Linked DNA regions of Homo sapiens. The protein of the gene in region 2 purifies or fractionates together with the protein of the main gene of each other region. This does not show direct contact. Each region holds a gene or a part of one and is shown on either strand. Other genes may lie near its edges.

The links.
Region 1: the proteins of DPYD (region 2) and STX18 fractionate together in Homo sapiens (co-fractionation; one large-scale study listed by BioGRID). This does not show direct contact.

Annotation. Positions count from the first base shown.
Region 1 is NC_000004.12:4,433,753-4,437,583, forward strand, and holds part of STX18 (syntaxin-18), read right to left. Parts: intron 1,107-3,831; coding exon 1,018-1,106; intron 1-1,017. UniProt on the Homo sapiens protein: Syntaxin that may be involved in targeting and fusion of Golgi-derived retrograde transport vesicles with the ER.
Region 2 is NC_000001.11:97,592,312-97,596,142, reverse strand, and holds part of DPYD (dihydropyrimidine dehydrogenase [NADP(+)]), read left to right. Parts: intron 1-976; coding exon 977-1,084; intron 1,085-2,755; coding exon 2,756-2,925; intron 2,926-3,831.

The DNA.
Region 1 (3,831 bases), on a different chromosome or scaffold from region 2:
GCTTGAAATTTCAGGTGGCTTAAGCAGCAACACAAACGCCTCAGTCTGAGAAGCTCAAGGCTGGGGAAAGACTGGATCCCATTCTTCCTCAACAGAGCTGTCTTCATGCTCCACTCCTTATCTTCTTGAGGGCTGGAAATCCAGCTCTTCCCTGATTAACTAGGGGACTCTGGGCAAGACCCTTTGCTGCCTTTTGCCAATGTTAAAATGAGATGCTAATGTTCCACCACCTCTTTGTGCAATTATTAAAAGTATCATGGATAAAATGAGAATCAAAAAGTTTTGTCTACTGCAAACTGCTGCACACTTAAAATGCTATCACTTGCCAGGCACAGTCACTGGAGGCGTGCCGTGTGGTAGTCACATTCCCCACGTCTTAGAGGACAGTGTCACATCCTAGCAGCTCTAGGTGACATCTATTCCCACACACAGATAGCATATTCCATCTGGCTTCTGTCACACCAGTGTCCAGATGAGCTGCACACAGACATTGCTGGACGTGAGCTGGCAGGGGCTTGGCAGACCTATCAGTTCCTTTTGAAACCCACCCATAGATGGTAAGCTATAGCAGCTGGAAACCAGAAGGCAGGTAACTAAAAGGAGGTGCTATCAGTAGTTAAGGTGTTACTCTTTTCACTTTTCAGTCATTATCTTACTTTTTTCACATTACCATAGCACTAGCAATTCAAACAATTAAAAAGCATCATAGTGGCATTTATAAAAGACCCATTTAGTCTAGAAGACTATTTTACTGTTGTTGAAAAGACATCTATTATTAGTAAAATTCTTCCAAGGCAAAATGTCTTCTTTAATTATGCTACTGCAAATTTAAAGCATATGAAAAGCACCGTAAGAATTAGGAAATCAAATGGGAAAGTGTATATAAAATACACATTTATAATTTTTAAAACTCAGTATAAAAATAAGGGCAAGGGCATTGAGGATGAGTTTCTCCTTAGTGAAACAGTCTTATGAAAACCAGTTAAAAATAAATAATTAGGCAGAGAATAGCATTACCATTTGTATTTCTTCTGGGGATAACTCATCTTCGCCTTTGCCATCTCCCCACGTTCCCAATTCAGGTTGTGTTTCAGCCAAAATTTTTTCTGTTAAAAAAAAAATTGAAAATAGAAGACCAAATATGTGTTTTAGAATAGGCTGGCTTAGGATGTAGTCATAACACAAACAAGAGATTAAACAGAATCTTACAGCTTTGTCTATATATTTCATGATCTTTGGGCTAATATTCAGGCACTGCAGACATGATTCTTTCACAACATTTAGGCTTTAAATTGTCTTTGTGCAGGCACGTGCATGTGTGTGTGTGATGGGGAGGGGGACCTATGCACGGTTTCAGTATCGCACTGATGTCAGCAATGGCTGCAAACTAAATGGACATTATTCAGAATGTCTTCAGAATTCTTCAGAATGAGTCTTAAAGTATGTTTTACTTCAAGACACATACACCCCTGTCTACTTTTAAAGACTGTAAGACATATTTTTATTGTAAAAAATACATATGCATATATACATACATATATATATATATACAGGAAGTGATATACTGTTCTCCAATCCTATTCCTCTCCCAGATGTTACTGCTTTGATGTAGCTTCATAGATTTTATCTAAAGATATTCACATACAAAGATATATGAGTCCCTGTCTACCCATGAAATTCAAGTAATACACAGTTTTGTGTGTATGGCGGCTTGCTTTTCACACAGATATCAATAGTAACATGCTGTTCTAAAACTTGCTTTGTATGATTTATTGATACATCTTGGAGATGGTCCAAGTAGATCTACCTTGTTCTTTTAAATTGCTGCATGATATTCCATCGTGAGGATACACTGGTCTTTAGCCATAACTACGCTGACAGACCTCAGTGGTTTCAGACTGTTCACTGGTGTCATGGTACTGTGTCCCGGTCTGTGCTATGTGCACATGCTGGAGTGACTCTCTAGGACAGATACCTGGGCATGCAACTGCTGAAAGGGAGCGTAGGAACATTTTAATCTGGAGAACTTTTTCATTATGATCAAGGAAAGGTGATGCATCCTCCATTGAAGCATGTCAATACCACAGGCCCCTAGAAAGGACTGCTGCCGCCCAGGATGACGGTAAGAGGTCTGTGCAGTTCATCACCGGGGTAGGGTTGGGAGCGGAGGGGAGAGGGATGGCAGGGATGGATCCTCGGGGGAGACTGTAATGAAGTCACTTTGTGTCTGTGTCTCAGGGCTTATCAGTGAGCTTCCAAGTACTCAAAGGCAAATACTGCTTCTTTTTCCTTTTTTCCTCAATCTCAGTAAATTTCCTGTAGTCAGTCTCAGCCCCATGAGATGGCAACAAGTCCAGATCTTTAAATAGGGGAAGAGAACGTAATGATAGCAACAATGTAGAGAAAGCTCACTAGGCAGGCCATGCCTGAAAGTTATGGTTATTTATTAGAAATATATCTTTACAAAAAAAACTGCATGTCATCCACAACTTAGTGCATGCAGGCTTTTAGAAAAATGGCTGTTTTTACCAGAAGTGTCATTATAGAAAAACATGTGTTTGTAAAAGGTTGGCTAAAAGTATCTTTAGAAATGATCTGATATTTTCCTGAGATGACATTCTTTGGGTAGGAACATTTGTACTTTCATCTACCCCCCACCCCCACCTTATGAGCTGTCTCCTACTTGTCCTCATTATGGTATCCATTTCAAGCTTTTACTGTTGTTGATTTCTTTTTTAAGGAAAAAAACATCAAAATTAGAAACAGAAACCTTGTTCATATCTGAACCAAGCATAAATTAACTCTGAGCTAGAATGGGAAAGTTTTCTTAGCAGAACTCACACTCTACAACATGCTCATTTGTGGCCATCAGAAGCCTTCTTGATAGGCTGCCCTAAGGATCAGCCTGAAGCACAGCACCCACCATGCCAGTCCTCTGCCCAGGCCACCCGTGCACCCTGGTGCCACAGAGGCAAGTCCAGACTCCCTACTCTGGCATTCAAGGCCCTACCCACCCTTCCAAGCTTACTCCCACCTCTCCTCCCACTGATGGGCTTCACTGATCCCCACGGGTCTTCTTTACTGACTATATCCCACCCAATCTCCAGGCTTTCTGGCCTCTGAGCATTTGCTCATGCTGCTGCCTCTGTCTAGAACTTTCTAAGCTTTCATTTTTTATTTTTTCAGGTCCAGACTCACTTTTTTTTTTTTTTTTTTTTTTTTTTGAGACGGAATTTCGCTCTTGTTGCCCAGGCTGGAGTGCAATGGCACGATCTTGGCTCACTGCAACTTCCGCCTCCCAGGTTCAAGTGATTCTCCTGCCTCAGCCTCCCCAGTAGCTGGGATTACAGGCGTGTGCCACCACACCTGGCTAATTTTGTATTTTTAGTAGAGATGGGGTTTTTCCATGTTAGGCTGGTCTTGATGTCCTGACCTCAGGTGATCCAACCCGCCTTGGCCTCCCAAAGTGCTGGGATTACAGGTGTGAACCACTGCGCCTGGCCCAGACTCACTTCTTAGTGCCACCTCCTCTTGAAGTCTCCCTGGCCCTCTGCTCTCTCTTGAGGTACTACTTACTTTCTCCCAGGGGCTAGAGCCTTATCTTTCCCATCAACTGTGAGCTCCCTGAGGGCAGGAATCACATCCCTGAAACTTATTGAGCTCCAATGTGACACCCAAAGGAAATACTCATTGGAGCTTTCCAGATTTTAGTTTTCAGATTAGAGATGCTCAACTGGTAAGGACAATGCAAATATGCAAAAATTTGAAAAAACCCTAAATCCAAAACACTTCTGGTCCCAAGCATTTCAGATAAGAGATACTCAACCTGTA
Region 2 (3,831 bases):
ATACGGTAAAACTAATTTCTTCATTTACCTGACATTCTGGTACTCTCTCATCTTATTTTCCTCTTTCTGTATTAATCATTTTTGTGCATTAAACCTTTATTTGCATGTGTCAGTATTTTCTTAAGATAGATTTAAGACTATTTTCTAGATATTGAACACCAATGTATATTTCCACTGAAAGAGTATGACAAGTTCCATGTCTACCCTTGGTGTATAGTTTAATTTTCTTAAATATTTTTCTTTTTATAGAGAAGTTACAATTTTATTCTTTTAATTTGCAGTTTAATGACTTAATGGAGTTAATATTTTTAGTGCTTATAGGTGATTTATATTTTTTCTTCTCCCAATTTTTATTATTCTTTATGTTTCCATTGAAAAGCTAATATGTTCCTTACTGATTTGGAGAATTTATACAGTAAAGACATTTAATTATTAAAACATCTTCTTGGTTAATAATTTTCGTTTTAATTCATTTATATTTTTTAAATTTAGCAGTGGTTGAATTATTGTGGCAAAATACATTGTTTTTTCCTTTAATTTTTTTCTTTCATTAAAAAAGAAATGATTTTACTTATTCAGGAATTAGATAAATATGTACCCATTTTTAACTTTTTTTATATTTAGTACTTTAATGTAGCTGAAACTGACTTATTTATGATATGAGGCAAGAATATAACCTGATTTTCCCTGTAATGTTATATATGTTTATGTGTGTATATACATATGTTTCCATATATTTATAGGTATACATTAATGTGTGATTTACGATGTGTACTTGGTTATATATTAAAGATATACATAATATACTCTGAGATCCGTTAGACTGTATTATGTACATTTTATATTGATTTGCTTACAGATGTTTTCCTCTAAGAATGACATTATTTCAAAGATTAAAGTTTTCTTTTTTGTTTTAATATCTAATAGGAAAAGCCCCTCCTCCTGCTAATGATATTTTATAAATTTGATTACTTAGGTTTGCCAGAACCCAATAAAGATGCCATCTTCCAAGGCCTGACGCAGGACCAGGGGTTTTATACATCCAAAGACTTTTTGCCACTTGTAGCCAAAGGCAGTAAAGCAGGTATAACATATTGTCTTTTATGCTTAATAGTGAGTATGCTATTTTATTTATGATAAATTAATATCAAAATCAAGCTCAGCAGCACATTGTTCAGCTCTCACACCCAACCTTGCCTAAGACCCAAATGTAAAATTAAAAAAAAAAAGGCCGGGTATAACAGTTTGCCAGAATCATCTGTTTGTTCATTCTTCCAATAAAGTATCATCGTAAGGAATTTTCACTGTAATATATATGTCTAAACTACATCATGAAAAATTGCTTCAAGGTAAGCAAGTCCTTAACAAACATTGGAAGATGTTTTTCAAAGAAATGGCATGAATCGTCACATATCTTATATGATTTGTATCTACACAGGCAGAAAGATTGACTGTCTTCTCTTAAACAGTAATTTTATGATGTTAAAATAAAATACTTTGATAGACACCCTATCACTTTATACACCCCAAGAAGAACCACCTGAATGAAGGTTGTACCTTGGTTTGGCCTGACCAGAGTCATTGTCTTTGGGGAAAATTGTAATATTTTATCCAAAGTCAGATAATCTAAATCCTTCAAATGTATATTTTTAAAGAGGTCTGAGCCACAGCTATTCCTACATTAATTACATGTAGAAATGATACAAACTTTTATGCTTCTCCCAGGACTTAAAACAGTAAGAAACTTTCTATATTAAATTATTCTTCAGAAGTTTACAGCTAAAGATGCATACCCTCTCCACCTTCTGCCTCTCAGTAGAACTGGATGTTTGTATGTCTGAAACCCTTTCTGAGGAAGGTCATAGTGCACCTAGCTTGTATTTGAAAATTACAGAGTGTCCCAAATACAAAATCTTCCAAGCAAAATGATTACACTTATTGAAATTATAGGTTTATTCTATTCTTGGTACCATTTAAAAAATTATAGTAATTGATCTTATAAACAGTTTTATTTAATCTTATTATACACTGCTACCTAACACATAAGGAATACTTGCATTTTACTTTTTTTACAAGGATCTTCATATGGACAGCAAATCTTAATAGAGATGACCTTGAGAAATGGATGCTTAGAAAGTCATATTTCTTTTACTGCCCAGTTTCACAAACAAAACCAGAGGAAAGCAGTGAAAGGGAGAAAGATTTATTTGAACTATTTCAAGAAAATAGTTCTCAGAAATTCTTCAGTTACATAAAGGACACTTATTCAGCACGTTAATATTCAAAGTTAACAAAATATATAACAGAGGTATGTGTTAGAAATTATATAAGGTAATACATAAAAAAGTATTATAATGAAATATTGCAAACCGTTAACACAGATCATAAGGATCACTTTTTTCTTCTAGCAAAAGGAAAATTATGCTGAGTTAAAGATAGATAGCACAATTTTGATGAAGAGAGTTTTAATTGATTGATTCCAGTCTGTTATGACCTAAACTTCTCAAAATGTGTTGTAGGAATCCTAGAAGAAAAAAGAAACTAAAGATACTGACTATGAAATTACATATATGAGCATATTTTTAAAATGGGAATAAAACTGTCTTTCAATGAAGCAGAATAATTTGATAGTGACACTTCATCCTGGAAAACTGCAAGATGCAATTTTACACTGCTTTGAGTACAAGTATCTTTTGAGCTGTCATGCAGAAATGGTTTCTCTACTTGAAAATGGGGTTTTCCTTTCATCATTCAGGAATGTGCGCCTGTCACTCTCCATTGCCATCGATACGGGGAGTCGTGATTGTACTTGGAGCTGGAGACACTGCCTTTGACTGTGCAACATCTGCTCTACGTTGTGGAGCTCGCCGTGTGTTCATCGTCTTCAGAAAAGGCTTTGTTAATATAAGAGCTGTCCCTGAGGAGGTAAAATGGAACCATCAGAAAATATGGAGTTGTACTCCAACAGATTTTAGGAGATGAAACTGTTAATGTTTAAATCGCTAGAATGTTGAAATTGTCAAATTCAAGTTTAAAAATTTCAGGGCTACACATAATTGTTTCTTTTCTAATTCAGACATTCCAAGTAAAAGAAAATTTGTAATACTGATTTGGGTAAAATGAGAAATTTAATCTTTGTCAATACTCAAGGGCTTCTTGTTAGTGTTAATATGCTTGAAATGTATTCTATGTAACTAGTAACAATGTAAAGTGCTAAGTCTTCCATATCCTGAATAGTAGGTACTCTTCACAAAATGTATGCATATTAGAAGAATGTGGTAATAAGACACATACGGAATTTTCCGTAAGCCAATTTACAGACTGCATTCTAAGATGTATACCTTGGTCATACTTTCAGTCAGTTCATTATTTGTGAAGCAAATAGAAAGAAAAGGGTGTCATGTATATTTTTAAAGTGCTCTAATATAAGCACTACTCAAAATTAGTAGTTAGTTAGCATACTAAAAATAACGTTTGGCTGTGCGCGGTGGCTCACGCCTGTAATCCCAGCACTTTGGGAGGCTGAGGCCGGCGGATCACAAGGTCAGGAGATCAAGACCATCCTGACTAACACGGTGAAACCCCGTCTCTACTAAAAATACAAAAAAATTAGCCGGGCGTGGTGGTGGGCGCCTGTAATCCCAGCTACTCAGGAGGCTGAGGCAGGAGAATGGCGTGAACCCGGGAGGCGGAGCTTGCAGTGAGCCCAGATCGTGCCACTGCACTCCAGCCTGGGTGACAGAGAGAGACTCTGTCTCAAAAAAATAGTAATAATAACATGTTTAAAATCATTTCATTCTTACCAGTGACTGGTGAGTAGTCTTGGGTGAG